Linked DNA regions of Homo sapiens: region 2 is linked to region 1. The links come from fine-mapping of genetic effects on gene expression. A gene starts in region 1. The other region holds a variant in brackets. All regions are shown on one strand. Distances are between the middles of the regions.

Evidence for each region.
Region 2: its variant is fine-mapped to the expression of IL1RAP in whole blood (INTERVAL, PIP above 0.99).

What each region holds. Positions count from the first base shown.
Region 1 is chr3:190,500,202-190,517,183 of GRCh38, forward strand. It overlaps IL1RAP (interleukin 1 receptor accessory protein), which reads left to right and starts at 13,884. Exons shown (of 12, transcript NM_002182.4): 1 at 13,884-14,018. RefSeq lists silencers at 4,639-4,933, 13,471-13,820 and enhancers at 13,231-13,320, 14,073-14,574, 14,575-15,074.
Region 2 is chr3:190,556,026-190,571,753 of GRCh38, forward strand. IL1RAP (interleukin 1 receptor accessory protein) reads left to right here. Exons shown (of 12, transcript NM_002182.4): 2 at 105-191; 3 at 8,264-8,328. The coding sequence starts at 8,265. Among named protein-coding and RNA genes, the nearest start is that of IL1RAP, 50 kb to the left of the region's middle. RefSeq lists an enhancer at 9,832-11,031. The variant G/A (reference allele first, on the strand shown) is at 10,772.

The DNA of each region.
Region 1 (16,982 bases):
AAAGATATTCAAACTCCCTTTATGGAGGTGTACTGCCAATTTTCTTTCTTTTATAAATAACATTATTGTAGAATAATATAAAAATGAAACATCACAGAATTTACATACAATCCTACCATCTTAACACTTTACTCCTTATCATTTTTATATACAGCTGCATGGCTATAAATATAAGGGTCTTGAATTTTATTTTAAAATTTAAATATAAGAATTTTTATATGCATAATTATAATTTTTAATGGTTGCATAATACTCTACCACATGATGTCCCAAATTGACTAAATCATTTTTCTACTTTCTCACAAAATCAGATTACGATTTTTTAAAATTGTGGTAAAATACACATAGAATAAAATTTGCTATCTTAACCATTTTTAAGTGTACGGTTTAATAAGTTTAAATTAATTTTAAGTTTTTTCAATAATACATGTAAAAATATCCTTTCTTGTCTACGTTCACATTGTTGTACAATCAATCTTTAGAACTCTTTTCATCTTGCAACCCTATCCACTGGACAATAACTTCTCATTACCCCCTTCCCCAAGCCCTTGGCAATCACCATTCCATTTTCTGTCTGTATGAATTTCAGTACTCTAGGTACCTCATATAATTGGAACCAAACAATATTTGTCTCTTTGTGAGTGGCTTATTTCATTTAGTATGATGTTTTCAAAGTTCATCCGTGTTGTAACATGTGTCAGAATCTCCTCCCTTGTAAAGGTTGAATAATATTCCATTGTATGTGTATACCACAATTTGTTTATCCATTCTTCTGCTGATGAACACTTGTGTTGTCTCTAATTTCGGCTATTGGAAATAGTCCTGCTATGAACATGGGTGTACCGATATCTCTTTGAGAACTTGCTTTCAATTTTTTGAGTATTTCCTTAGAACCAAAACTGATGAACCATATAGTAATTCTATTTTCAATTTTTAGAGGAATTACCATACCCTTTTCCTTAGAGGCTACACCATTTTATGTACCATGAACAGTGCACAAGAGTTCCAATTTCTTCACATTGTCAACAATACTTGTTATTTTATTTCTTTTTATTTTATTTTTCAAATATTAACCATTGTATTGAGTATGAAGTAGTGTCTCATTATGTTTTTAATTTGCATTTCCTTAATGATTCATGATATTGAGCTTCTTTTCACATGCTTATTGGCTATTGCCATGTTTTTTTTGTTTGTTTGGTTGGTTGGTTTTTTTGAAAACACTAAGTCTGTTCAAGTCCTTTGCCCATTGTTTAATCAAGTTATTTGTATTTGTGCTGTTGAGTTATGGGAGTTTTTATATATCTGGTTATTGGCACCTGGTCAACATTGTTTTTGCAGTGAATATCTATGTTAATACATTTTCCTCTTGGTTTGAATTATTATTTTAAGTACATTGCCAGGATTGTAATTTCTGGTTTGAAAAATATGTTTTGAAGATCTTGACTTATTTGCCAAATTGCTTCTTCAAAGAATTGTGTCTAATAACTTTAGCATTATGGAAATGTAACAGTGTACCTGTAATCCCAGAATTGTATTAGTGAAATTAATTTTAATTTTTTTCAATGACACATGTAAAAATGTCCTCCCTTATCTACATTTGCATGTCTTTGATTACTGGCACAATTTTAAAATTGAATACTGTTCCATGTGTTTTTGGTGTGACGACCTTCCCTTATTTATTCATGGTTTGATCACATACTTGTGTATTTAATTATTAGAATTTGGATATTTGTCTCATTACATAACAAATATACTGCAATATTGCCTCTGTGCATATTTTTAATTTTAGTTATATTTTAGTTTTTATCACATAAAGCTATATGTGCATGTGCATAATCATTAATTACATATTTCTAACTTTTGAAGTGTGGTACTAGATTGTTCCTCCTGCTGTATTTCTATGATTCATTTTTTTAAAGCAAGGTCAACCTGTACAGCTTTTTCAAGGAACCTCAGAATTGACATACGGGAGCTGTGAAATTTACACAATCTGCTGCTCTCCTGAATGGTCACCAAAATGTCAGTCTACGCTATTATGTGGCCAGCTGAACATATTGGCGGAGGAAAATGCATCTTTTGGAAACATAGCACCAATAAATAAAATGGTCTTCGGGGCAGTGAAAGTGTCTTGGTGTCAGCAGCAGCAATCAAAGCCATATTGGAAGCAACATGGCCAAGTAAAGAAAGTAAAGGGTCCTGGCTTCAGTTGGGGGAAAGGCTGAGAAATGCTGTCCCATGAATTTTAAAGGAATAATAACCTTAAGGTCTGTGACCATGAAGGGTCTTTACAGGGACCAGAATGAGTGGTGATATTAAATCTTGAGACCTTGGCCAAATTCCAACATGGGTAATTACATTCGGCCAATTTAAAATTCCCTGCGCAGTTTCTAATGCAGTCCCCTTCTGTGCTTCTCGATGCCAACCTACTGCATGCTGCTGTTCTGCATTGATAGGTAACTGTTGACCTCTAGCCTGAAGGAGGCCTTGAAGCCACGAGGGAAAAATTTATTATAAATGTCATTTCTGTCTTTTACTTCTAAAGAATCCCACTTCCAAACATGTAGGCTATTATAGAAAAGTCTAAGGATCTTTAAGTGTGGTGTATTTGGCATGGGTATTCTTCCATGACCCTACCACCCAGGTTTGGGTTGTTGGGGGAGATACAAAGAACTTTATACTTTATACAATCTGATTTCCAGTCCAACTCTTCTAGTTCTTATTACCCGTGTGACCTTAAGCAACTCTCCCTTATCAACTTTCAAGAACCTCTCATGGTTTCAGAAAACAAAACAATTCTTTAACATAGCCAGGCCCCTCATAACTAGCCTGCAATCAGTCTTTCCTACCTTATCTATACCTACTCCCAGGAATTGAGATTCAGTCAAAAAAACTAGACCATTTTCTGTTCCCTTTCTGTGCAAATTCATGCACTTTGCCTATACCCCTGTTGTTTCTACTGTCTAAGTGACTCACAACTTCCTCTCTTCTAGAAAAATCCTATCTGTCTCTCGATACTGATCCTAAATATCAACTCCATGAAACCTTTCCTTGATTTCTCAGCTGCAAATCGTGTTGTATTCCACAGTATAAATGTGAATGTCTATAGTTGTCATAGCTTTCGTTTTAGAAATTGATCTTTTTAAGTGTACGTTGCATTTCCTGCGGAACACAATACAGGATTTTGCATTTACTGTTTTAAAAACTGAATTGTTTTAATCTTTATTTTCATATAGTAGCCTATTTGAATGTAAAAGCAGGTCTGAAAAAGGAAGGAATATATAGTTCGCTTGAGGCTAATAAGTATACACAAACACAGTCATCTCTTAATTGTTCTTTCCTGTGGGATTTTGGTTATATTCAATAACTATATATGTGCAAGTTTTATCAAATGTATTTTAAATTTCATCACCTCTTGTGACAAAAATTGTGGCATTATTCTCTCTGATAAATACATTTTTAAAATTTTCTTTCTTTATTTATTTGAGACAAGGTCTTACTCTGTTACCCAGGCTACAGTGCAGTGGCATGATCTTGTCTTACTCCAACCTCTGCCTCCCGGGTTCAAGCGATTCTTGAGCCTCAGGCACCCAAGTAGCTGGGACTACAGGCGTGAGCCACTGTGCCCAACTGATCTTAGAAAGATTGTCCTGTGTATTAGGCCGTTCTTGCATTGTTGTAAAGCAATACCTGAGACTGGGTAATTTATAAGAAAAGAGGTTTAATTGGATCATGGTTCTGCAGGCTGTAAAAGCATGTCATCAGCACCTGGTTGGCTCCTGGTGAGGACCTCCGGAAGCTTACAGTCATGGAGGAAAGTGAATGGGGAACAGGTACCCCACAGGGTGAAAGCAGGAGAGGGAGAGAGTGGGGAGGGGGTAGTGGGGACGGAGGTGCCACACACTCTTGAATAACCAGATCTCACTAGAACTCACTATCACAAAGACAGCACCAAGCTATGAGGGATCTGACTCCATGATTCAAACACCTCCCATCAGACCCGACCTCCAGCATTGAGGAATACAAATTCAACATGAAATTTGGGTGGGGAAAAATATTCAAAGTATATCATCCTGGAAGACCACTAAGGAATCAGCAAGTCTAGTCATTCCCTCTATCAAATTTCAGTTTTAAGAGTCATGATAGGGATTGGGCACCTCTATTATTAAATACAAAACTAACCATACAAAAACCTATAAAAGGAAATTTGAAAAACAGAGGTGACTTGGATGTTTAGCAACGGCTGATGACTACTGTTCTAGGACAATACTGCAGTTCAGACCATTTTAAAGGTTAGGAAGCAGAAGCTCAGAAAGCAGAAATGATTGTGTCGAGAACAGACAGGGATTCTGCAGCCAAACCTAGACTGGAACTGAGGCCATCTAGCAGCAGTTAGGTGAATTAGCAGTTAGACAGACCCCTTTGTTCTCTATATCTCCACCCCTATTTACCATCTCCAGGGTTCTATATCTGGGCTATCTGAATGGCTATTTTAACTTTTACAGGTTACAATTATAAATATATTACAAACTAGTATGTTAATTATAGATCATCTTAAAAATTCGATGCAGAAGTCTCACTGCTGCTTTTCTTTTGCTGCTTGGAATTCAGTCAGCCAAATTTGCCTCAGGCCCAATAATCTCAAGGTTTACCTCAAGTGCTCTTACTTAATAAAGACAACCTCTCAGTTGAGGGAGCACACATGTTCCCCAAAGAGAAGCTATCATTCACCAACAAGCTCATTTTCTAGGCAAGTTATGACTCAATAGCTCATGAGTTTCCAGGAATAGTGCGTGCATGAATAAAAGCTACAAGGGGAAGTATTTAATGCCAACAGGAATAAAGATATTGACTATTATATTAAGTCAAAAGTATGCAGCCTGTAGCAGTATGATTTTCTTGATCTGAATGCTAGTTACATGGTTGTACTTCCTTTGTTAAAAGGCATCAAGCTCTACATATATGATTAGTGCAGTTTTATGTATTCATGTTACACCTCAATAAAATGTTGATTTAATATAATAAAAAATAATAATAACATAGCACTGCCTTACTTTGTCATTTAGAACAAGGCAGAGAGTGGCAAGTAATTACAAGAAATTATACCTGACAACCACGTCAAATAATTTAATGTTGTCACACTTTAAAATCCAGTTTTCTGAATTCCTAGCTCTGCAATGTTGGGCAAGCCATATTACCTTCTGGAGCCTCAGATTTTTCTATATCTCCTAAATAGAAAAAATAAATACTCAGTTCATGAAGATCCTATGGTGTGATAACATAATATTGGTTAAACAAAAAGCACAGACTTAAAAAGCACCTGTCTCTCAGCAGAAATCAGTAACTCATTTATTTGTTCTCATTTGTTTGTTCAAGCATTCTTTCTGTCAAACACCATTCTGGAACACAAAGGCAAATAGATAAGCTACAGTTTTGCTTTTTGAGTAGCATAAGTAATATCTTCCCTCACCCCACCCCTTTTCTTCCGATGCCTGATTCAAGTATAGTTTTCTAACCATTTCTTCCAACATCTGCCACATGTTCTCTGGTTAGAGTAGGAAAATTGACCCTGCTTCACTCTTCCCTCCTCTCAGTGGTGTGTGAAACACCTTCCAATGGGCTTACATGGAGTACCATACCATCTTTCATAAAGCACTCACCACATTATTCTGCAGTTATTTTATTTTTATAACAAATAGTACCTGAGTGGATGAATGGATGCATACTCTTCCCCTGCCCCATTACGTCTCACACCTTCCTCCTTGGTCACCATAAACCTTAATTCGATCTCTCCTTCTAATTTCTTCTAGTGATACCCTCTCTCTTTCTTTCCTTGATACGCTCTAAATAGAAGTACTCCTTCTGGCCGGGCGTGGTGGCTCACAGCTGTAATCCCAGCACTTTGGGAGGCCGAGTTGGACAAATCACCTGAGGTCAGGAGTTAGAGACCAGCCTGGCCAACATGGTGAACCCCGTCTCTCCTAAAAATACAAAATTAGCCAGGCATGATGGCAGGCACCTGTAATCCCACCTACTAGGGAGGCTGAAGAAGGAGGATTGCTTGAACCCAGGAGGTGGAGGTTGCAGTGAGCCGAGATCACGGCATTCCACTCCAGCCTGGGCGACAGAGCAAGACTCCCTCAAAAAAAAGAATACTCCTTCCTCAATACCCCGATGTTACTATATTTTAACTTTCTTACTGACCTTAGTGTAGCATAGGAAAAGTATGGCCTTTAGACTCTGTTAGACCTGGGATTTGCTCCTGGCTTTAACATTAACTAGTGGTGTGGCCTTAGATAAATCAGCTTCTCTGACTCCATTTTCTCATTGCTAAAAGTAGAGAAACAATTTCTACTTTTTAAGGATATTGTGAGGTTTAGAAGTAATTGATGTTTAAAGGGCTTGTCACATGCTCAATGCCAATTGCTCAATGAAGAGGAAATATTATTTCAACCTTGTATTGACAACCATGTAGACATTTTATCTTCTTCTCTTCTCTCCTCTTCTGGCCTATAATGAAGGAACCGTGGCTACTGTATCTCAGCAATGCTCACACTGTCCATGTAGAGCAAATGTTCAACACGTTTGAAAAGATGTATGAATAAAAGATAAAATAAATTTCTCAATGTTGGTGGCAGAGAAAGAATATCATACAAAGTCTCTGCATCTCATATGAGTACTTGAAAATTATTCTCCAAAGGTGAATAATATAAGTGCCTCTCTGCTAGTGGATCATTCAGTCTTCCTGTTGCTGCACAAAAAAAATAGAACTGAATGGCACAGTTCACTCATCCTGCTGTGAGAACAAGCACATATTAGCACAATTTTAACTGGCACCAATTGGCTGTTATTCACCAGATTGTGACCAATTTAGATTAGGTCTGCCCTTAAATACTGTAGTGGTTTAGCTTATGGAATAATACAGGTGATAGTATCTCTATGAAGAACATTCTTTCCATTTAGATCAGATGTTGGAGGCTAGAAGCTGATAAATGTCTTAACTACTTACAAGGCCAAGTTAGAACCATAAAGGCAAGTTTCCCTTTTTGCATGCAAAGTTCTTGCCTTTGAATTTCCTGATGTAGTAAAGTGTCAATAATGCATAATAACCATCCTCCAAGACTTTATTAAAATCCTGACCTTTGCTTCAAAGCTTCTGTTTGGAAGAAGAAAAACGAGGAAAGAAAAGTAGGTCCTTTCTAACAGCCTCCAGGAGCTTTAGGCCATAGGCCAGGAAGACAGGCTGTCTTTTGGAAAACATGCCTTTGCCTGTCACCTTCACTGATATTGCCCTGTGGTGGCACTGGAGGAGCATCACCAGGAAGTCAGACATTAAAGGAGAAGCAACTCAGACAATAGGATTCTGATTCTGCTACTACAAGTATCTACTGACCTCTGAGAACTGCAGAACTCTCAGAACATATTAACTTTTTTTTTTTTTGAGACGGAGTCTGGCTCTGTCGCCCAGGCTGGAGTGCAGTGGCGCGATCTAGGCTCACTGCAAGCTCCGCCTCCCGGGTTCACGCCATTCTCCTGCCTCAGCCTCCCGAGTAGCTGGGACTACAGTCGCCCGCCACCACGCCCGGCTAATTTTTTGTATTTTTAGTAGAGACGGGGTTTCACGGTGTTAGCCAGGAAGAACATATTAACTTTATCCAAAGCCCTGCACTAAATGATTTGACCAAACTCTAGCATAGCTTCTAGCAGCATGAGGTCATGTCCCTAGGACGACCCCAGCTCCATATTAAAACGCCTGCTTGAGAAAGCTCAACTCTCCCAGGAGGTTGCTGTTTGCTCTAGCCAATACCTGATTATAGGCTCTTGACCTCCTCTTCTTAGAGAATCAACTTAGAAATGCTTACTTTTGTGAATGCTTATATTTTACAACTCAGTAGTGTCTCTCTCAGGGACCTGTGCACCATTCCTTTAAATGTAATAACCAGGAAAGATGGGGCCTCTGTCTCCCAATCTCTGTGGGAGAATAGAATTCTAACTTCAATAAGTGTCAGGCAGCAGTCACAGTTAGCACAGCTAGTCATTTGCACTGATCAAACCCTTAGTAATATTTCACTTCTCAGGCTCTACTGAGATCCTGCTCTGCTACCTCCCTCATTCTCCATTTAAAAGGCCAAACAACCTCTACACAAATAGGAATGAAGCTCAGCTGTTTCCTCTGCTATCAATAGTTACTAAATAAAATCTGTTTTCATGGCTTTAACTAACGTCAGGCAGTGTTTCTCTTTGACACCTCCACGTGGGAGTAGTGCCCTGTGATGGGAGTCAGCTTCAACCCTATGCAGATAAATAGAGATTGGAAGGGTTCCAGAAGTTCCCCTTTCCCCTCTTGTCTTTCAGGACTGCATGTAACCCAGGTAGTGAGTCTGAAGGATAGAAATGAGTGAAGCTGGCTAGGCGCGGTGGCTCACGCCTGTAATCCCAGCACTTTGAGAGGCCGAGGTGGGTGGATCACCTGATGTCAGGAATTCGAGACCAGCCTGGCCAACATGGTGAAACCTCATCTCTACTAAAAATAGAAAAATTAGCTGGGAGTGGTGGTGGGCACCTGTAGTCCCAGGTACTCTGGAGGCTGAGGGAGGAGAATCACTTGAACCTGGGAAGCGCAGGTTGCAGTGAGCCAAGATCACACCACTGCACTCTAGCCTGGGCGACAGAGCGAGACTCAGTCTAAAAAAAAACAAAAAAGGAAAAGAAAAGAAATGAGTGAAGCCTCCCACTGCACAGTCAAATTTCCAATTTCCTCTTCCAAACGACTTGAATTTCAATAGTTGGGTATATGTGTTTGAACAAATTAGCATATCTCTTCAACAAGGTAGAGTTGAGCTCTTAGTAATCAACACCTTATCATTACTGTTTAATCTGCTTATTTCCCTACACCTAGCCGAATCAAACTGAAGGAAGAGAGGCTTTTGTCAGAAACAGATGCAATAAAAAGGAAGAGGGATACCTGACTTGGAAACCCAGGGCACCACAGAGGAAGTGGGGGCAGGCATAACTAAGTGCTGCGAGGGGAAATGTGAACACCCAGAGAACAGGTACAAGGGTCAGCTGGGGATGGAGGAGAAAAGAGCTGAGGGGTATAAAAGGTGGAAACGTAAAAGGGTTTGGAAGGTGATATAATTACTTTTTCCTTTTTTCACTTTTTTTTTCTTTTCTCTTGGCTCCTGCCCTTCACCTTCCTTCCAAAAGCTCAAAATAAAATGTCTCTATAATGTGCTTTCTTTACTCTGTACCCAGCCAAATATATACACATATATATACGTGTATATATATATACGTATATATATGTATATATATTAAACATATATACGTATATATATAGACACACACACACACACACACATATATATATATATAATTTGTTGTTTTAGTTTTTGTCTTCCAATGATTCTGATCTCCCAAAAAAATGTAAATCAAAGGAAGAGGGCGATATATAAGTCACTTAATATCTTTGTATCAAAGTTTAACCATGAGAGTTTTGGACTGAATTGTAACTCAACAAATGTTTATTCAATGAGTACTACGTGCAAAATATTGTCTGTTTGCCAGGGAAACATTATATTACCCTCCCGGAGTTAGCATTCTAGTGAAAACAGCATTCAATAAGTAAATTAATTAAAATGTTACGTAATGTATTATTTGACTTGGTTGTCAGGAAAAGCTTTGCTGGGAAGGTTATAGTGGAGCAGGGACATTAATGAAGATGTGAGTAAGAGGAGAGAACAAGCAACAGGGGAACAGCGGTCCAGCAAGGGGGAACAGCAGGTGCAAACACCCTAGTATGGGAACATGTTAGTGTGTTTGGTCGACAGCAAGGAGCATGCTATGGGAGATTGAAAGAAGCAACTCAGTGCTGGATCATGTAGGGCCACACAAGGACTTTTAGGCCATAAATGACTATGGAAATTTATCTGATCATGATAAGAAATCACTATTTGAAAGCAGAGAATGACATATTTCTTGTAAAAGAATAATGAATATTTATATTGCATTTCTACATGCCAATCCCCATGCCAAGTGTTTTACTTATATAATCTCATTTAATTTAAAAACAGCACTATAATGTATATTATTGTCATTGTTATTCATATTTTTCAGAGAATAAAACTGTGAAAAAAAGAAATTAAGTAACTTGACCACATTATGTAAACTTGATCCCAGGTAGTCGGGCTTCAGATTCCTTGACCTCAATCACTAGCCTGTATTTATTCTATTTTCATTTATAAGGGTCTCTGAAGTAAGGGCAATAGACTCTTTGGGTAAGAGTTTAAGCAGGGACACCAGTGAGGGGAGAGATGGCAATGACTTGAACCATGGTGGTTGTGATGGAGAAGAGGAATAGCGTGGTTGGATTTGAGATGTGTTTTGAATGTAGAGGAAGCAGAAGGTTTGTGGATATAATGTGTACAGGCAATGAGAGAGAGTGATAACTCCAACTTTTTGACCTGAGCAACTGGGTAAAAGACAGTGTTGCTTACAAAGCTCTGGTTTGGTGTGGGGCAGAAATAAAGTTTGAATTTGAACATGTAAAGTTTGAGATGTATTTAAAACATCCAAGAAGGAGATATGAAGGAGGTAATATGGTATACAAAGTCTGGTTTGGGCTTTAGATTTAGATTTGCAAGTTATTATCATATTGATATTTTAGAAGGCCATGTGTCTGTCTGAGTTCCCCTAGGTAGAGAATATAACCACTTCAAGGATTGAGCTCTAGGACACTGGAACCTTCAGAGATCATGAAGAGGTAGAGGATTCAATAAGAATCTGATAAGGAACAGCAGATGAAATACATGAAAAACAAAGAGTCAAGTACGAGAGAGTGTGAAAGAGCAACAGATTATCTGTGTCTAATGCTGCTGATACATGTACAATGAAGACAGAGAATTGATCACCACATTTGGCAAAGTGAAGATCATTACAGATGCTGACTGTGGAGTGGTAGAGATAAATGTCTGAATGGATTGGGTTCAAGAGACTAGCAAACTCCTGATGCGTCTTACAGCTACAGCAAGATAATTAAAGATAACCTAAAAAAAAGGTGGAGGGTAAAAGCTGGGAGAAGAAGAGAATAATAATACCTTTCCAAATACATCAATCAATTGCAAAATATTTTATTGTGCATCTTCTATACATCCAGCAGTATTAGTCACTGACATCAATGAATTTGTAGCTTCATTTATTCATTTAGGCAACTATTATTCATCAAATGTTTAGTATGTGATGGATATTTAATGGGTATAGCTTTAAAATATTTTTCTCAATTGTTAGCATAACATTTTTTCATTTTTAATTATTACGGGTACATAATAGGTGTATATATGTATGGGTGACATGTGATGTTTTGATACATGCATACAATGTGTAATAATCACATCAGGGTAATGACAACAGGGTGTCATCACCTTGACCATTTGTCACTTCTTTGAGGAACATTCCAATTTCACTCTTACTTATTTTAAAATGCATAATTAATTATTGTTGACTGTAGTCACTCTGTTGTGCTATCAAGTGCTGGGTCTTATACATTCCAGCTAATTATATTTTTGCAACCGTTAACCATCCTCCCTTCCCCACAACTCCCTTGCCTCTGCTACTCTTCCCAGCCTCTGGTAACCATCATTCTACTCTCATATCTCAGTTCCTTTGTTTAATTTTTAGCTCCCACGTGTGAGTGAGAATTTGCAAAATTTGTCTTTCTGTGCTTGGTTTATTTCACTTAAATGTAAAAGGAAAAAGAGATGTTTCTATTTCTGTAATCCTAACATATCAACATTTTTTCACATTCCTTTCAATTGGTGTTCATCTCTCCACAACTTTTACTCAACCTTATTTTGTAAGCCTTTTTCTTTGTAGACATATTTCCATAATATGATAGTTATGATGCAAATATTTTATTCTGTGCGTAGACAGCGTTGGTTAACTAATCATTTTCATTTCCAACCATTTATATTGTGTTCAAACTACAATATACTATGAATATTTGTCTATATGATTATTCATCTTAATGTTATCTTCCTTAAGCTATGAGTAGCCCTTCAATGTCCGGGAATATACATCTGGTTCAATTCTGAATTACTAGCATCTGTTTGGCTTCTAGGTAGTACATGAGACTGAGTAGCGGCTGAGAGCATGAACGTCGAGTGTCTCTAGTCTCATTTTGTATTCTCCACTTGTAGGCCTGTAGCCTTGGTCAAGTTATTTAAATTCCCTTTATCTCCTTTATGAACTGGAGATAATAATAGCACCCTCCAGGTTGTATTGAGGGTTACCTGAATTAATATACACAAAGTCCTTATGATTGCACCTTTTTATTTTGTAAGCACTGTGTAAATGCTTCAGTGTACTATATATATATAAAAGTCTGTGCCCAGAATATATTTAAGGAATGAATAATAAATCAGAAAATGTTTTATTGTTGCTTCATACAGGTAACATTTTAAATTCTTTTGGATTATTTTCTCTTTGGTTCAGTGACAATGTTGTGAGCAGGTGCTGGGTCCCAGGTATCCTGAGATAAATAAAAATTTTGAGCAATTAATTTTCATAAGTGATGTCAAGAAGTAAAGTATCATGAACATTTCTATGGCTCCAATTACACTGATATTTCACCTTAGGAACTGAAGCTCCGCCAGGGCAGGGGCAGCCTCTGAGTTTCGTACTGCTGTGCACCTTTAGCAGCACGGGCACCTGCTGGTTTCATTTCCTTCCCACTCACCTGGGCCCTTTTCTTATTTCACATCTTTTTTCTCCTTTTCCTTAAATGCTTTCTCTGAATCTTGATTCTTGAAAATAAATTAGTAGGATTCAGTTAGGTAGGAGGAGGAGAAAAGAAGATGTGATGAGCAAGAAGATGTGCGAAGACTCGTCAGTCTGGTAGGTGGCTTTGGTTAGGGGGTTTCAGAAATGGGGACAGGTCATGAAGGGCCTTGCCAGTCAGGAAAAATCATGAGGCACTAGCAGTAGGAACACAGCAGAAGGTGCCTGAACAAGAGAGATGACTTAATGAAAGCCTTTATAACGCTTCCCGGGATATATTACAGACTACCATCTACAGTGGCAGAGGGCAGCTGAAGGAAGGCTCTTGCAAAAACTTGGGGAAATGGAAATGAATGAAGGCAAATATTTGTTTTGAGATTATTTCCTTCTATGTAACCTATTAGTTCTTTTATTCGTTCCCCATACATGTATTGAGTGCCTACTTTGTGCCAGGCACTGTGCTAGGCAATGGGTATATTACCAGTGGACAATACAGATTTAGTCTTGCTGTCATGTCCTGTTGCTTGCTCATATGAATGTCAGTTCAAGACAGCAAGAGCTCAGGACTGCGGAGATCGCATCTACATCCTGCCGCGCTCTGTGCCGGCACAGGGTGGTTGCGAAAATCGTGCAGTCTGAATTGATTCAAGGCCTTGCAGCATGATTGCTAAATACGTCGAGACAGGAAGAAAGGGCAGGGTGGCACCGATCTCAACTGCGAGAGCACGATCTTGCAATGAGCGCATGTGTGCGCCTCGGTGTGTAGTGAGGGGCGTAGCTTCCCACAGCGCCTGGCAGCGTGCCGAGCTGCGCTGCAGGACTAACCCTCTCCTTTCCCCGCGCGCTCAAGCCCGCACAGGCGGTGGCAGGGAGCCGAAGGGGCCGAGCGCAGCCTTGCATCCGTCCGCAGGCGGGCCCGGCGCCGCGCCTCCTGGCGGCGGGCGGGACCGTCCAGGACGCCGCCCCGCGGCCGCAGCTCCTGGAAGCCCAGAGCGCCGGTGGATCGCGAGCCAAGGCGGCGGGTGGAGCCTGAGCCGTGAGGCCGTGGCCAATCGCGCCGCTCCGGGGGAGGAGCCCCAAAGGGGGAAAAGAAAGTGCGGCGGAAAGTAAGAGGCTCACTGGGGAAGACTGCCGGGATCCAGGTCTCCGGGGTCCGCTTTGGCCAGAGGCGCGGAAGGAAGCAGTGCCCGGCGACACTGCACCCATCCCGGCTGCTTTTGCTGCGCCCTCTCAGCTTCCCAAGAAAGGTGAGTCTCGCGCCGCCGTGAGGGCTCAGAAGTCACCAAGCCGCAGAATCTCAGGGTAGACGGATTCTTAGAGATCCTATCGTTAAACCCTCCTACTTTACAGAAGAGGAAACTGAGGCACAGAACGAGGCAGCGGCTGGGATAGGTCATACTGCTAGTTAGGACTGGAGCCCGGATTCGAACCCAAACGTTCAGAGACCCATCTTTGCTTTGCAGGGATTTAAGTAACGCGGTTGTGGGACGTCTGCTCGTTGCCGCCCCCATCCTCAGCCCTTTGAGGGGTCTACCCTTGTTTTCCTCCTCACCGCCCCCTCCCCGCTACCACCCCCCGCCCCCATCTCCTCCTTGGTTTCTCCAGACCGCTGCTGGAAGCGCCGAGGACAGAAGGAAGCGGTGTGTCCCAGCACGCCCACTCGGTATCACGTCGCTCTCAGCGCAGAGCTGTGACAGCCTGGGAAAATGCTGCTTGCAGCCTCACTCCCTCTTCCCCTGACCTGCTTTCTCAGAAAGATGCCCCTTCAGAGGGTGTCGGACCAGCTTCTGGAGGAGCGCGGGGAGAGAGGAGCGAGGCCCGGGCGCCAGTGACCTCCTATGGTACTGTTTCTTCCCAGCCCCGGAGGAAGCGGAGCTAGTGGCCCTGTGGGGCACAGGGTGCCCCTCACTTGGGAAGAGCTGACTTCATGGAACCATAGAGCCCCTTCCCTCTTCTAAATACTGAGAGGGAGCAAGGAAGCTGAGTTAAAGAGAAAATCACAAACATAAAAGCAAACTTCGGCTGTTTCCTTTAAGAGCTAGCCCACAGCCTGTCTTCCCTCCACCTTCTGGTTGTGAAATTGTGAACCAGGGCGCCACGCGAAGCATTCTGCTGCTCTGCTGTACAGATCCCTGGTTTAGCTACTGGATGAGAAAGAGGACTTGAGTTTTGACTCCAGCTCTTCCATGTATTAGCAGTGTGAACTTGGGCAAGTTATCTCACCTTTCCGATACTGGGTTTTTCTTTTCTTTCTTTCTTCCTTTTTTTTTTTTCCAGCCAAAAAATGGAGATTTATAATGGTCACAATGAGCCCTTTGGGTAGTTGGAAGGATGAAATGGGATCATTCAAGTAGCATGTTTAGCACAGTGCCTGGCCTGGCATCTGGTTGGTTCAAAACCAATGGCAACTATTGTAAATATTGTTACATAGTAACCTTGCAGACAGTGGGTTTTCAGAAAGGTGATTTCATACCATCTTACAGAGGCATTTTAAAAAAATCTGTAAATGTGGTGTCTTTCTTCTTTTGAATTTGAGCAACTCTTTTATAATAAGAATTTTCTGAATGTTGTCCATATGTGATGTGGATCATGGATGCTTAGCTCGAAATGTAAAATTGATGTTTCTCGGTGATATGAATTTCCTACTAGTTTTTAGGTCAAACCTCAGGCCTGTGAACTGCCCTGATCTGAGACATCCTTTATTGACAAAGAGGGTCTTGAAATGGGTGAGAGGCAGAAAGACAAGAAGACAAAGTTGGAAGTTGCAGCTGTGTTACAGATTATTCTAAGCCTTCTATCCTTGCTCTCTTAGGTCAGTCGAGCAACCTTACATTTTTCATCTAGTATCAGAAAACAAACAAAATTCTCATATATTTCTTTTGGATTGTACAGAGATGCTGCTAAATGCAAACCTTTCTGGACACAAACTTGCCTTATTTAAACACGAACACACAGACATTCACATGCCCACACTAGTCTTCCTGTATTATTGGTATTTTAAAGTTAAATGGATTCCCTCCCACACCCTTAACCCTTCTCATGACAATTGATTTTATTCTGATGAACTTCATGCAATAATTTACTACTATCTACTGGCTTTGCCATGCGTCCTTAAATTGAGTGTCCAGCATTTGTAGTTGGCTGCCTCCTTCACAGGCCATAGCATTTGTATGCAGTATTGGTAAGTGCTTGAGAACAGAGTGTGATACATCTTGATGGAAGATAAGAGCCCAGTGGTGCCCACTTAAGTACCTCCCGCACCAAGCATTAGTAAAGGATGGGATCACCTGCTTCTATCAGCTTGTTCCATGTACATGCATTGTGGTGAGCTGGCTGGGATATGACTGAATGTGTGCCTGAGAGACAGGGGCCTTGTGGGGGAAAAGGAAAATGTTCAAAATAAGGTCAGATCATGAGGATGGAAGGGAGATTAAAAGCTAATTCCTTTGGTTCTGATTCTTCAAAGAAAGGTTGGTCAATTATACCCATATCTTCATACAGATTATTACTTGTTACCAAAACCATATATATGTATAGAACTTTAAAATTTCCAAAGTGCATTCTGTATATATGATACTCCTTGTTACTCACAATAGCCCTGGGAGGACATGGCAAGAATATTAATAGAGGAAGGAGCCCAGGTTTTGTGGTCAGACCTACTTGATTTCAAATTCCAGCTCTCATGCCTGAGTAGTTGGGTGATATTGAGCAGTTTATTTAATCATTTGAAGTTTCTGTTTTATCCAGTTCTAAAATGGAAAAAAAAAATGCTTACTTTAAAAATCTGTATAACGAATAAATTCAATAGAATAATGTCAAGTACATGTAGTGAATAGGTGCTCATTAAATGATATCTCTTCTTAGCTAGTCTCAATTTATTTAGAACATAACTGGAATGAGACTCAGAGAAATGAAAAGTTGCTAGAGGTCATGTGTTAGTATGTTTCAACTCTGGGAATACAGTTCACACCTTTTCATGTCTAGTTTAGGGCATTTCCCATCACACTCTGTTTCCTCGCCAATGAGATATTTAACAATTTACTTCAGTTATAAAGTTGACCTTATTTGTCTGGTTATTTCAGGATATCCTTTTTGTTGAAAAGCAGGTATTTTCTTGCAAAGAGAACAATCCTTAAGCACAGTTCTGTAGAGTTTAGTGGAGCCAACTGTCATAAGAGGGTATTTAAAGCAATGGTCTCTAAGACAACCTT
Region 2 (15,728 bases), 55 kb after region 1:
ATACGCTTTAACCAACGAAAAAGTTTTTCCACATTTTTTACAGAAGCACAACATATTGACAGTACATAAATATTGTGTTCAACTTTTTCATTTTGTTTACATAGGCATCGTCATGTGATCATCACCTAAGAACTAGAACATCAGCAGGCCCTAGAAGCCTCACTCTTGCCCCTCCCTTTAATATCTCAAAGGTAATTCATTTTCTGATTTAAATTAAGCAATTTATAAAACATTTCCTTATCGACTTTAAGTTCTCTACCCCTTCAGTTTCTTTCAAATTTAAACAAAACCAAGCAAAAACTTTAGCTTATTTCATAATAAACACTAATTGTCATAATATATAGCATTTTTTATATATATATATGTATGTATACACACACACACACATATGTATGTTTTCACATGTCACATCCTTTGATCCTCTCCATCTACCCTATCAGATAGTCAGCACAGGGATTTTTACTGCTATTTTAAAAATGAGGATATGAGGCCTAGAGAAGGGAAACCTCCTGAGCCACGATTTTCCAATTTCCAATTTCATCATAGAGGCTATCACAGTAATCTTGGCTTTTCTGTAATTTGTCAAGGCCAGACTTGACAACTAAAACTATCTTCTTTGAAATATTTTGACAATAGAGCACTAAACTTGGACCTAGTACACACAAAGTGTAGGGCATGGCAAGTTTTGCCAAATACTCAATGGTCAACTTGAACCACGTAATTTGGGCTCTTTTTTGTAAATAATATTAGTGGTAGCTCACATTGTCTACTACTCCATAGTTCCTCAATTATTTCACATCTATTATCTCACTTAATAAGAGTTGATGATAAACAGCATTTGCTGAGAGCAATTTGTGTTCCTGGATGGTGCTAAGCACTTTACAGCAATTGTTAAGACTTTCCTCTCAACAAATGGTGAGGTAGTTGTATTAGTTTCTATCATTCCCCAGCCTCAGTGTCCCTAAGTAGAGAAATACTTAATCATCAAATTGTCCTCTGGAGAGAGGGTACAATGGAACAATTCCTTACCTTGTTTAGAAGGATCCATGAACCCCTAGCACATCAGTCTTGAATTAACCATCAAGACAGTGAGCTAGTTACAGATCTTCCTAAGAGGTCAGTATGAATATTCCTCACCTCTTCTCTCAGGCTCTCCAGTATCACACAGTCAAACAAACTAGGAACTGCAAGTTCAGTGCTCTTTTTAAATTGCTCTTTCACCTTCCACTCACTGAAAACCCAGTTCTAGTTCTCCCTTGTGAGGGACAGGACTTCATGATGGTATTTCTTACCTCACCCCACAGAGCATGTTGCTATTCAAAATATTAAAGCACAAAAGGGAATCAATCTGCTCACATTCTATTCCAAGCTTCTAAAGATGGCAGGTGGTATATTATGTATATATGTCCTCTCAGAGTGCTGAGCACTTTGAAGCTATTTCCTAAAAAGGGAGAAGGCAGTATCTAAGAGGAGTGTGCTAATGTTTTCTTATGAACTTTGACTCTGCTGTTATATCAGTAAAGGTTAGCAGTACTGGCTTGGTAAGCTGAAAGTTGGGGCATTTCATTGATCTCTCCATGTACCTCCACTGCTAGGCATTTCTGGAATATTCAGTGCTTAATGACAAGGCTGTGTTATTTTCAAAGTAAATGTTGAAAATAGAAACCATATTTAGGTTAAAACACCTTTCTTTAAACTGTCAAAAAGGCTCCATAAATCATTTGTTGAGTTTTTAAAAAGAAAAATCATACCACTTAAAATATATTTCTAATTAATGCACTGTAACATTAACTTTTTTGGGAGTACAGCTCTTTGAATATTAACTCATGTATCGAATCAAGTAACCACTGTGACAAACAGGATACAAAACTGTTCTGTTTCTCCAAACAACTCTCATGTGCCCTTCTTTTGCAGTCATACTCTCCCATTATCCCTAACCCCTTGATCTGTTCTCGGTCACTCCAGTTCTGTCTTTTTGAGAGTGTTATTTAAATGGAATCATACAATAGGCATCCTATTAAGGTTGGTTTATTTAATTCAGCACAATGCCTTTGAGATTCATCCAAGTTATTATATCAACATATATAATGCTCATTGCTTAGTATTGCTGAGTATTATTCTATTTTTTTGGATGCCACAGAATTTGTTGATCCATTCACTTGTAGAATGACAATTGAATTGTTTCCAGCTTTAGGCAATTAATAATAGGGCTTCTACAAACATGCAGGTATAGCTTTTTGTATGAAAGTAAGTTTTCATTTCCCTTGGACAAATATCCAAGAGTGAGATTACTGGGTTGTATGGCAAGTTTATGTTTAACTTTATTAAGAAACTGCTGTTTTCCAGAGAGGGTATATGGACATTTCATATTCCACCAGTATGAGAGTTCCAATTGCTTTGCATCCTCTTCATCACTTGGTATTGTCAGTATTTATTTTTTAATTTTAGTCATTCTGAAAGGTGTATTGTGGTATCTCCTTGTGGTTTTAATTTGCATTTCCCTGATGGCTAATGACATTGAATGACTCTTCATGTGTTTATTTGACTTTTGCATATCGTTTTGGTAAAGTGTTTCTTTATGACTTAAACATTTTAAAATTGAGTTGTTTCTTGTATGATTCCTCCAACTTTATTCTTCTTTTTCAAAATTTTTCTCAATGTCTTAGGGCTTTCTATTTTCATATAAATATCAGAATCAGTTTCTCTATAGCTAGAAAAAATCTTTCTGGGATTTTGATTGGAATTAACTAAATCTTTAGGCCATCTTGGAGAAAATTGACTTCTCTATGTTGAGTTTCTCAGTTCATGAATATGGTATGTCTCTTCTATTATTTTCTAGTACCATTTTAACAAATTACCAAAAACTTAGTTGCTTAAAAAGCACCCATTTATTGTTGCACAGTTTCTGTGGGTCAGAAGGCCAAGAACAATGTGGCTTAGCTGGTTCCCTGCTTAGGGTTTCGTAAGGCTGAAATGATGGTGTCAGCAGTATTGTGTTCCTTTCTGGTGACTCTGGAGATGAATATATTTCTATTCCTTTAATAGTTATTGGACTATTCAGGTCGTCTGTTTCATCTTAGCTGAGCTTTAGTAGTTTGTAGTTTTTGAGATGTTAGTCCATTTTATCTAAGTTGTGGAATGTATGAGCCTGGAGTTTGTAATATTGCCTTATTACCATTTGAATATCTCCGTGATCACTAGTCATGTCCCATCATTCATTTCTATTTTTAGTGATAGTACCTTTTTTCCTTACTTAACGTATCACCTGGCTTGAGGTTTATGTTTTATTGTTCTTTTCAAAGAACTAACTTTTGGTTTCTTTATTTTTCTATATGTATATATTTCCTGTTTTGAAATTATTTGATTTCTACTCTATAAAATTTCCTTTATTATGCTTGTTTCATTTATTCTTCTTTCTGTAGTTTCTTAAAGTGGAAGATTAGATTATGGGCTTGCTATCTTTCTTCTTTTCTAAGATAAGCCTTTAGTGCTACAAATTATCCTCTAATCACTACATTAGCTGCATCCCACACACTTGGTATGTTTTATTTTATTTTTGTCAAGTTAGAAATATTTTCTAATTTCCCTTACAACTTTCTTTTCAACCCATATATACTTTATTTTAAGGCATGTATTTTAATTTTGAAGTGTTTGGAGATTTTCCTATTATCTTTCTGTTATTGATTTCTAGTTTAATTCTATGGGGAGAGAACATACTTTGAATTCTTTTAAATTTGTTAAAATTTGATTTATGATACATGATACGGTGTATCTGGTGAATGTCCTATTGAAAAGAATGCCTTATTTTTTACTTTTAGAATCCTCAAACAGTTGTTCCATCAAATATGCCCGCGTTTTATAACTGCAAAGACAGGATGAAGAATATTTACTTCATTTTACCCCAAATCAGAGTCTTCCATGTCACTTTGCCAAAACTTTCATTTGCTGATAAATATTAGATTTGAAATATTCTGCACAAGGATCCTATTTTCAAAAAAAGCCCTGTAAACTCCACAAAAGACTGATGATGAAAATAACTCTCATGTCTTACTAAATGCTATCCCTTTTGTGTAGAATGGAATAATTAGTAGCTTTTCCTGTTTTCTTCAAAGGCTTGTTCATTGTATCTTAGGTAACCACAGAAATGCCAGACCTACTCAGACTTTTTGCAGTAACTTAGAGAAAATAAAAGGAAAGATCTGAATGGGATTAGGGCAGGATTGGGACTCAAGGAAGTGATTTGACTACAGGGTTGACCTTTTATGGGGATGGCCTTCTGGGGTGTATTCCTTGGCGTGAATGGCCAAGTTTTCAAAAGTGCGAATGGTCGTAGTTTTCAGTGGGCAGGTCATAGAAAAGGGTGTCAGTCAACCATGGCAGAATGAAGCAGGTTTAGCAGTTTCATGGTTATAGGAGGTTTATCTAGCTGACTGCAAGTCTTTACAGGGACATAAGGTAGGCTCCTGGAAGAGGGTGCTGACGAGCACCAGGCTGAAGGCCTAAGTGGGTGTTTTCTGAGTATAGAGCTATATATGGGATCAGGAAACTGAGGGACAAATCCAGTCCTGTGATCTGGTGAAGTGCTGCTGAGCGGAAGGCAGGCAGAACAAATGGTGATTCATGGCAAATCCCACCCTTGGCACAGCAAACCTAGTTTCAGCCTGTCACCTGCGGGCTAGGTGAGAGAATTCAGTGGTCAGAGTGATGCAGATAAGGAGATGCTAATGATTACCAAGTCTAGAGAATGCAGACGATAAAAAGTTTCATATGCGGAAGTAGATGTTAAGGTGCTGAGCACGTGAAGACCCATCTTTAACATTGTCGTCGATTACAGAGAACTAAGTACATTTTAAATCTTCTTGCTAAATGATATAGTCATTAAAGTTGATATACTGGGAAACAATAGGATTAAATATGAGAGATGTACCAAAAGATAAGGGAGGGAGCATGAGGATTATCATGCAGTAAATTACACGGATAATGCAGGAAAGGCTGGGAAGATATTATATGTAGGTTAGAATCATCTGAAGCAACAGCAGGGTCTGTTAGGCCCCATTGCAATAATCTAAAGCTAAGCTCTAATTTAGACACTGAGAATCTGTGTTTATTACCCACGTCCCTTTGCTTTCTGACAGTTCCTCCATCTCTGACCCAGCACCCTCTCACTCTAAGACGCAACAACCAAAAGTGTATTACTCTTTACGATAATAAAATTCTAAGGCTGAATACAAGACAATGCTAAATGACCCAGCATTCTCTGAGAGGTTTCAGATCAGCCAGGCGCCTCCCAATAACATTGGTACCTTTAATCTGTCAAAACCAGCCTGTTCAATCACGTTTCCTTTTCAGTCTGCTTTATTCTAATTCATCACAGGGCAGGACTGGCCCTGGATGTGTGTTCGCAGACAGGTTATCTTTAGATTAGCTTTGCCTTGGTGACCTGACTCTTTGCTGCCTTCAGCATAATCCAGTTACTCTTGGGAATATCAATTAAGGCCCTCAATCACACTAATTAGAATGTCTTATAAATGTTGCCTTAGGAATTCAGCAGCTTATAAACAGGCAAACTGGGAAAATCTAGAGGTATGTGGGGGTTTTTAAATAGCTGACAGCAATTTGGGAGGGCGTATTGCTTTAGCATAGCTGAGAAGTGGGGCTGAAATTACGGTTCCCTGAATGCAGTGAAATCTCTAGTTGCTCTTTGCTGGCAAGTTTAATGCAGAATTATTAATTACATTTATTAATGACTTGGATGAAGATATAGGTTGCATGCTGATCAAGTCTGTAGATGTCACAAAGCTAGGAAGATAGCAATTATTGTGATAACAGATTCAGGAGCCAAAATGACTTCAAGACAGAATTTAGCAGCCATCTATCTAATACGCGCCTGGCAGTGCTCTATAAAGTACAATTTGAGGGTCATGTTGCTCCCCTACTCAGAAAACTTTGGTGACTCCCTATTTGCTCTTTAAATCCCAAGCCTTTGGCCTGTTATTTAAGGCTTTGCCATATTATGATTCTACCACTGTCTGCTTTCCAACAAAATCTTCTGTAGTTCTTTTTCTAAAACCTTGTGCTTGAGCAAAACTCAGTTCTTTATATACTATTTTCCATTTGTGTTCTATGCTTTCACTACCTTTGAGCATTATTCTCCACTGAAAGTTTCTTTTTCTCACATGTTCCTTCTGTCTCAAGTCTAAATATCCATACCAGTTCAAATGTCACCTCTTGTGTTTCGTCTTCTTTTATTGTCTTGGCTGGAGTGACCTCTTTCCTTTGCTAATCTTCAATAACACTTATCTGTTCCTCTCTATTTTTATCACTTTTTACTTCATATTGCAGGGGGTTTTTTTTTTGGTGCACATTTTAAGTTTCTGTTAGACCCTGCCTAGTGCTAGAATTTCTGTCTGGTAACTCTTTTTATCTCTTAAGTGTCTCTAGATGTGTGTTCTATACATAGTTGATGATACTAAAGTGTCTTGCTGGGGGTTCATCTTTACTGTGGAAAAGTGCCTTTAGAGAAGACCCTACATTTTGCCCATGAGAGGCTTCGTAGCTGTATCATAGCAACTTGGAAACTCAAAGGATAAATCCTTGAGGGGACGGATATTCCATTTTCCATGATGTGCTTATTTCACATTGCTTGCCTGTATCAAAACATATCTCGTCCACACACACACACACACACACACACACACACACACACACACATCTGCTACATAACCACACACACACACAAACTAAAAAATTTGGAAAAGAAGGAGAAAATGCTCAATACATGTTTTATTGAATAAATGAAAGACTGATGGAGAGAAAAAGATTTCCCCAAGGTCATAATATAAGAGCTGGAAGGAAGAGGTGCTGGGAAGAAAACATCATTTAATTTATCAGATGAAACAACAGCTTGTGATATGACGAGCTCACCTGTGATTTGTGTACAACCAGGCTAAAAAAGGAAGCATGAACCAGAGATTTTTGGAGAGGTGTGGTCAAGAGAGGTGACGGGAGTTGGAAACTTGCATAGTCCTTTAGGGTGGCCACACCTCTTGGATTCCTTGTGTAGTTTATATCTTTTGTTATAATTTAATGCTCTTAAAATTGGCCCATTTTAAATGATGTTATATGGTCATCTTATTTATCAAATACCTCTTTGATCTGTTTAAGCTGCTGCATACCTGTGGTTGTGAAACTTGTGGCATAGGCTATTTGAGATAATAATCTTTGTAGTTAGCCTAATGTGGATATAAATAGCATCTTTGTCACTTACTGGAAATATGAGCTGGACAAGTTATCAAGACCTCTGCAAGCATTCTTATATGGCTGTTACCTTCGACACAGAAAGCAGAGTTCTTGAGCATGGAATTTCTGCATCATCTTCAGGTTTCAGTATTTATAACCCACAGAGGTTTTACCAGTGGCCAGATATTTCTTGGGTAGTAGAAAAAGAAATACTTCACAGAGCTGTCAAATCTCCACATCTTCAGCATTAAATATCATGCAACCAAATGTAAGGGTATGGTTCACAGCAGTTGGCTGTTTCAGCTGGTTATTAATAGGAAGGCGAAAGATCATAGAAAGTTGACTCCTCCCTCATCATTTCTGTCTTCCAGTGAGAAGAGGAGAGCACGAACAGCAGGAATTAGATTTATATATTTTCCTTAATATAAATTCACAGTATGGTAGATTGCAGACAAAGTCTGAATCCAGGATTTCTAGACTTTCTATGTGTCTATGTGTCACTAAAAGGGAAAAGTACCTGGATTGTAAAGTATTCCAACTAGAAATAGACCAAGGGAATGCAAAGAGGGGTAAGAAGGTTGAATTTATCTGCCAGAAATGTAAATCCTGGTCAAAAAATCCAGATGAATATTTTTTAAGTAGGCAGTTATAGTTCAGTGAAAAAGAGAGTTGTGGAGCCAGAAAGCTGGAGTTTGATCATAGCTCTACCACTCTCTAGCCAAAGGATCGTGGTGATGTTATTGAAACTTGTCTCTAGCCAAAGGATCTTAGTTATGTTATTTAAACCTGTGTATTAAACTTCTTTATCTGCATGTAATATGGGAATTGAAAAACAAACAACAAAAAAACAGAAACAAAATAAAACCTGTCTTATTGGTTGGTTCTGACAATGAAATTTGTTAATATTGTAAAATTCTTAGAACAGTCCCTAGTCTATAGTCAGCAGGCATGAATGCTAGTTATTATTATTTAAGCCCTTGAAAGTAGTAAGTGATTTCCCTTACCTTTGTATTTATGGTTACAGGATGACACTTCTGTGGTGTGTAGTGAGTCTCTACTTTTATGGAATCCTGCAAAGTGATGCCTCAGGTAAGTGAATGGCTTTTGACAATGTATTAAAATGCAAGTCATGCGTAGGGTAATGAGTCCACTCTTCCTGAAAATGAATTTAAATAAACATAATGTTATTCATGTCCATTGTCTTCTGCGGTAGCAAATAATCATAAAGCAGAATAATAGAATTTTGATGATGGAAAGAACCATTGCTGTCTCTAGTCTTCATGGGATAGAGTACACAGGGGGCAGTGGGCCGCTGTGTTTAAACACAGGTATTTTTCATTACCTTCACACTCAGCCAACTAGAATATTGCTTTTTTCCCTTACCTCAGGTCCTATGGGGGAAAAATGGGAGTGATAATAGCACAATCTGTTTTTCAAATTTGAGCCAGTGGTGGAAAAGTTATCAGTGGTAATAATCCATTGAGATGTTAAATAAAATAATGAGTTTTTGTCATATTGTTTCTATATAGGAAAAAGAAAGGATCTGTCTTTAGACTCATTCTTTCTCTGGATGTTGCTTTATAAGAGGAACCAGCTAAGACCTTTATAGAGTTTGAAAACCAAACTCAGTCATCATGGGCCTGGATCACGTGAAATTAGATATGGAAGAGACTTGCTATTTGAAAGTCCATCTTTTCAGATCTCCTCTTCTTCCCAGAATTATGCCCAGAATCACTCTCTATCTCTGACTATTAATCATTACATTTCAGCCTATGTTTTTGGACTAATCAAATTCTTAGAAAGTTTTTAGTACATAAAACTGAAATTTGTCTCTTTGATTTTAGTATCTAAAACTGAAATTTGTCTCTTTCCAAACATTTACTTGGTTCAACTGTAGGACTGAAAAAAAAAAAAGAAACAAACAAACAAACAAACAAAACAACCAAAACCTAATGCAATGGTTCTCTAATTGTAATGAAGGGAACCTAGAGGTCCTCATTTTATAAAGCTTTTCATGTAAAATTCCCCTGAACACCATAAACCATACTTTACATATCGTTGCTTTAATTCCTTTTCTTTGTGAGAGGGCTTCTGCAATGTTAAGTTAGCTACCATATAACCATGACCTCAGTGTTCTGCAATATATGCCTTCAACTGTTTTTCATATGACATGGATTTGAGCTCTCCTACCATCCTGATCATCTTTTCTGGGTGCGTTTCAGCTTTTCTATGCCACATAAAACATTGTATTAGAAACCAAAAATAGTACTAAAGGAGTGGTATAAGTAGGACAGAGTACAGCTCAGTGCTGAAACTAGCAGTAACTTCTAGCCTTGTTGGCCCTTTGGGGCTTCACAGAGGAATGGCTGTAGATAACCGGAGATGTTATTCGGCTGGGATGCGCTAGGAGACAGCTCCTTGGCTGTTTAGTCCAGCATCTGTCCTGCTTGGTTAGGTGTCGCGTTTGATAGGTGAGTTTCTTGATGTCCTGATTTTCAAATATGTTAAATATAATTCTTGATTTTAGTTTGTTCTTATTTGATTTAGTTCTATGTTTGAATGCTATCTGCTCACAGAGGCTTCCTTGACCATCTTAACTAAAAATCCCTACCAGTCACTCTCTCTCCCTCCATCCTGTTTTAGTTTTCTTTGTAACACTCACATTCCCTGATATTATATTAGCCTTCTTTCTCTTCTCTCCTCCTCCTCCCTCTTCCTCTTCTCTTGTTTCCTCCTCCTTTTCCTTCCTTTTTTTCTTCCTGAACTCCCTGTCCTTCCTCCTTTTCTGCCTCCCTTCTTTCCTTTCTCTCCATCTCTTTTTCTTCCTCCTTCCCTCCCTCTGTCTTGGATTTTAAGCTGCCTGAGGGCAGGAACTTGTTCAGGAACTTTTGTTTGTTATCCAAACACTCAGAATAATACTGACACATAGACACATAGCAGATGCTCAATACATAGGTGTTAAATGGTTGAATACATGTCCCTTTACATCCTTTCCCCTGCCCCCAGACTGTCCAGTTTTATAATGGAACGTGTTTGGGTTCATGCCAGTAATTCATCATGTGGTTTTATGTCCTCCCTCATCCTGAAGGAAGAGGGACAGGTGACTGTGTTACCATTGCTGAAGGATCATGGAGGTTCCAGAAGCTAATGAGTGCTGGTGCCTTCCCAGCAGTCCTGACCATGTTACTTTTCTGAATGACCTTTACTGTAATCCATCCAAGGAGTCCCCAGCCCCCACCTCAAGTGCTGTTGGTAAGAGAGCTTTCTATCCAGGAACTGTGACTCATAATTCTGCCAGGGGAAGCTAACTTCTTGAATAAGATAAGTTCTCATACCAGCCACATTGCGTCACCGTGGGAGCAGGAAACATGTTGTAATCCCCTCAGCCCATCTGGCACGTACTCATTTGCCTTCCTTATGAAGAGGTGTATTGTGTCTGACAGTGATGCCACTTCCTAGTTGGAGGGAGAGGAACAAAAAGGACATGTTGTTGACAAAAACGAAAAGAGCAACTGGCTCTGGGCTAGTGGGG[G/A]AAGAAAGAAATCATTGCGCATCTTGAGGGATCAACCAACCTCTCTGCACATGAAAGTATTGCCTTTTACAAGGCATCTGTGGATGCTGACAGATTTGTTGGTCTTTCATGAGGCTCTCCCTGTGCTCAGGTTCCCATCTCAACGGAAACACAGGTTGATGTGAGGAACAAAGCAGAAATGTTCTGAAAACCCTAAAGCAATCTACATGCGTATCATATTAGTAAGACATTTATTTTGTTCTGAGTCCTTCCATGTGGGCCTTTTAAGAGAATCCTCAAATATAAAAAAGAAACCATAAAAGCATAAGAACTTAGCGCCATGCAATGTGTTTTCACACGCAGTGAACTGGCCGTGAAGTCATACGATTCTGACTTCCGATCATGATTTTTCTGGTAGCAGTACTGTGATCCCCTTATCCCCTCAGGAATGGGGGAGCAACATTTTCATCTTAGGTGATGATAAAAGCAAATGATTTTTTAAGAAAGCTTTATTTCCCTTTAAGGAATTAAAGCTTGGATAATTATAATAGCGATTCTATAATTATAATGTGCTAGTTATAGTAATAATAATAAAGCTCCCTTTGCTTAAAAAAGCAGTTTGCATTGTACATATTCAATGTCAGTCTCACACCCAAACCATGGGGTAGTCAGAGCTGTTGTAACTACCTTTGTTGGGTAAGACAAGTTAGGATCAAAGTATTTAATTGTATTACTCGAAGTCACACAGCTATACTTAGCATGCTTGTGACTTCAACGAGTTTCTGGATTCCTGACATCCATATTATTTTTACGAAATATGCTCCAGTTGGGGTCTATTAGAATATAAATTACTAAGAAAAAAGATTAAGATCTAAGGGATCACAGGTAATCATTTTGCAAACTGTTGAAGAACCACTCTGTGATAGGTTTCTATGCTTTGTAGGTAAGGTATATCCTTACACGCTTATCCTGCCCCCTCACAGCACTGAAACATTTTCTTCAGGAGGAAAATGATTGTAATACAAAATTCAAACCCAATATTCCTTTTTTTGCTTATTATAGTATTAAATATTTTCACTAATAAACTCGAAGAAGTTCTGTTTGTAAGACTTCGAAATGGAAACTTCAGCTCAATACACGTCTCTTTTGCTGTGCCTCATTGGCAGTGTGTCAGGAAGCTGAACTGTTAAAAGCTGCCTTTGGAGTAGACATAAATTTTGGAACCTGTGATCCCAAGTTGAGGAGGTAATAAAAATAGCACCATATAGAATATAGTGAATTTAAAAAATATTACCATATCAAAATTATTTGCTGGACAAATCACATGAAAAAGAGAGTACACTGCCACCCCAAAATGCAGGCACACACACGGATCTTTGAGAAAGATTTTATTTCAAAGTCAACAGTTGACTGTGTGCCAGGTGCAGGGCTGGATTTCACACACATTATCAGGAACTTCGCAGGAACCATTGTACAGGGGTAGGGGCTGGAGACTCTTCTACCTGTTTGATAGTTTAGGAAATGAAGATCCAGGGAGGTGGCCCAAGTGCTCATGATAGCCTGGCTTGCCTGATAGAGCCAGGCTGCCTTGACTCCAGAAACAGTGCTCTTTTTTATTTTTCCATACTATAATTGCCTTTCTTTAGGACTGTGCTCTGCTACTAGAAGTAAGATCCTCTGATTCCTTTTCCATTATATTTTACAAAATTGGTAGAGAATGGAAATCATCTATCCAATGATTGGGAGTGAATTATACAATGCAAAATAAATAAATAGTAAAAAACACTGTGGTTTCCTAGTAATTGAGAGATTCAAGTTCTGTTTTACTCTGTGACTTGTTTGATGACAGTAAAGGGGTCATTTCATCACTTTTTGTCATTGCATCCTTATTTATAAACCAAGCCAACCAACCAAACAATTAACAAACAATAGCAGCAGATCCCAGTCAATTCCAGTTTCTTGATTTTTATGAAGGAACACTATGCATCATGGACACACACAGGGTATACTCCTATTAGCTACTTAAATTCTTTCTAATAACAATGTTAACAATGATTTCACTTTATTCTAAAGATCATGCGTTTGACCATTTTAGATTGTAGAATCCAGGGTTAGTAAGAGGAATTTCTTATTTTAAGAGGAATACAGTAAAGTTTGAGAGAAGGAAGAGGAAATAATTACCAAATAGAATTCCGTGAGAGCAGAGAAAGTTACCAATCCTATCAGGAGATATTGGGGAAGACTTAATCATTGCTCCTTCCTAGGAAGAAACGCATCTCTTATTTGGGAATGAAATAGTTCAGGGCAACTCAAAAGATAGTGCAAAGGCATTTAGAAGCCAAGCTGGAAAGGTAGGTTGGGAACAAATTATGCAGGACGGGAATTACTTCAGGTAAAGAGAATGTCCACATTTAATGTATTTTGGTTATAGTTGGCTAGGTTTCTTTTCCTTTTTTTAAATTCTGTCGTATTTTTGCAAGGACATACACTATTATTAATTCTATGTGATGGTTCTTTCACCTTTTGGTAAGAATTCAGTTTGTTACCAGCCCCAGTGGCCTCATTTTATTTGAATATCCTTGCTTTAATAACTCCGTGCTCAGATATACTTGTGACATTGTGTCCTGTCCCAGTTGCCCATGGCTGGTCATCCTGAACACTCTTCATTTCTATGTAATTTAGTCCAAACATTTGGAAAATGTATGAAGAATACTGTTTCATTTTATTCTTAGTCCTAAAGGTCATTGGAATTACAGAATTTCACCCTGTTGTCATTTAAATGATGCCTCTCGGAAGCAGATCTCTTCACTTTTTTTTTTTTCTTTAGCTGTGTTTATAGCTTGAAGCACACTTATATTTTAGTTACTTATATTTCCCAAGGGTGGATTTACTGTAGCCTGATTGAAAAGAAATTTAAGTACCACATAATTGGCTTGATACTGAGTTTGCAAATACACAGCTTCTTGTATCACAGTGATAATTCTAAGTTTAGAAAAATGACCTGGTTCTTTTTCACATGGCTGTGTTAGTTAAAGGAAACCAGTATTTTTGTAGGAACTCCTGCATACCGTTGTAGGAAAAAATGTTTGTTTTACAAGAATTTATTCTACCCTTTGAATTACCTTTGTTTTTGCTATCCTTTCCCTCACTCCCCCAACCCTGAATATTCATTTCTACCATATTTTAGGGACCAGATTGCCACCTTAGCAGTGACTCACTACCAAGACCAGTTTCTACCCACTTTTCTTTCACCACTTAAAAAGTTTCTTTTCTGTTTAACTGATTAACTTTTTAGAAAATAAAATATATACCCACCCAGGATAACAACACAATGATTGCTTTATTTTTAAATCCACTGAGTGCTGCCATCTCTCATTTATTTTTGAGGAACAGTGAGAAAATGGATACATTTAACAAATAATTTGGGAACCTCAGTCACCTTCAAGTTACCTGCTATCCAAACCTATAAAAGCTGATGTACAAAATTTTCTGGCTTTGCCTTTGCGTGTTTTAGAGATAGTGGGAATAATGAAAATGCAAGATGACTACGACAATGAGAGAAAATAAATAAAATAATCACTTCCTCAGCAACCTAGACCATATTCTGTTGTGTTTTATGACATTCATTTCTCCTTCTACCATAGGAACCAAAATGCTTGGTATAGCTATACATTACTGGGAAATAAATAGCACTTTTCTGCAGTGTTTGTAGGGTCTGAAATAGTTTAAGGCTCTTATCCATCAGCCCATTTTTTTTTACTTCTGAGATACTTTCATATTTATTTATTTATTTATTTATTTATTTTTTGAGACGGAGCTTCGCTCTTGTTGCCAGGCTGGAGTGCAATGGTGCGATCTCAGCTCACCTCAACCTCCACCTCCCAAGTTCAAGTGATTCTCCTGCCTCAGCCTCCCTAGTAGCTGGGATTACAGGCATTTGCCACCATGCCCAACTAATTCTGTATTTTTTTGTAGAGATGGGGTTTCTCCATGTTGGTCGGGTTGGTCTGGAACTCCTGACCTCAGGTGATCTGCCTGCCTCAGCCTCCCAAAGTGCTGGAATGGCAGGCTACTTTCATATTTTTTTTAAAGTGCTCTTTAAGGTTTATAGTAGTGTTCATTTTGATATGTGCACCAAGATACTGGTGTTTGCGTTTCCCCCTTCCCTTATGTAAGAAAATGTTATGGTCTCTTTGAGATTTGGACTTGCCACCCAGTGCTACCAAGACTGACCAATTTAGTCTATTTGCCAATTACGTTTCCTCAGTGGAACCTTCTCCAGGACCTACTGCATACGTGTAGATACTCAAGAGGAAAGAAAAAGAAAACAGGCACATCGATCATGATTTTTTTTATGTGTGATTTTTTCTGTTAACTATTGCTTTTTATTAATTTATTATGGTGGGTTTTATTTTTTCCTAATTACTTACCCTTGCATAAGAAGTATAACTATGGGCCAGGCACACTGGCTCATGCCTATAATGCCAGTACTTTGGGAGGCTGAGGTGGGGAGATTGCTTGAGGCCAGAAGTTTGAGACCAGCCTGCACAAAATAATAAGACCCTGACTCCACAAAAAAAAAATTAAAAAAATAGCTGAGTATGGTGATGCACACCTGTAGTCCCAGCTAATCAGGAGGCTGAGGTGGGAGGATCACTTGAGACTGGCCGGTAAAGGCTAAAATGAGCTGTGATCACGCCACTGCACTCCAGCCTGGGCGACAGAACAAGACCCTGTCTCTCTCTTTCTCAAAAAAAAGTACAACTATAGTTGAAATATAGACCTTTATTATTATTACTAGATGAGAGATTAAATTGTATTTATCATATGTAAAATGACATTTCGAAGTATTTATACATTGTGGAATGACTAAATCTAGCTAATTAACATATGTATTACCTAACATAGTTACCATTTTTGGAGTGAGAAGACTTTAGATTCACTGTTATCACTTTAAAGCAAGCTTGTCCAACCCGTG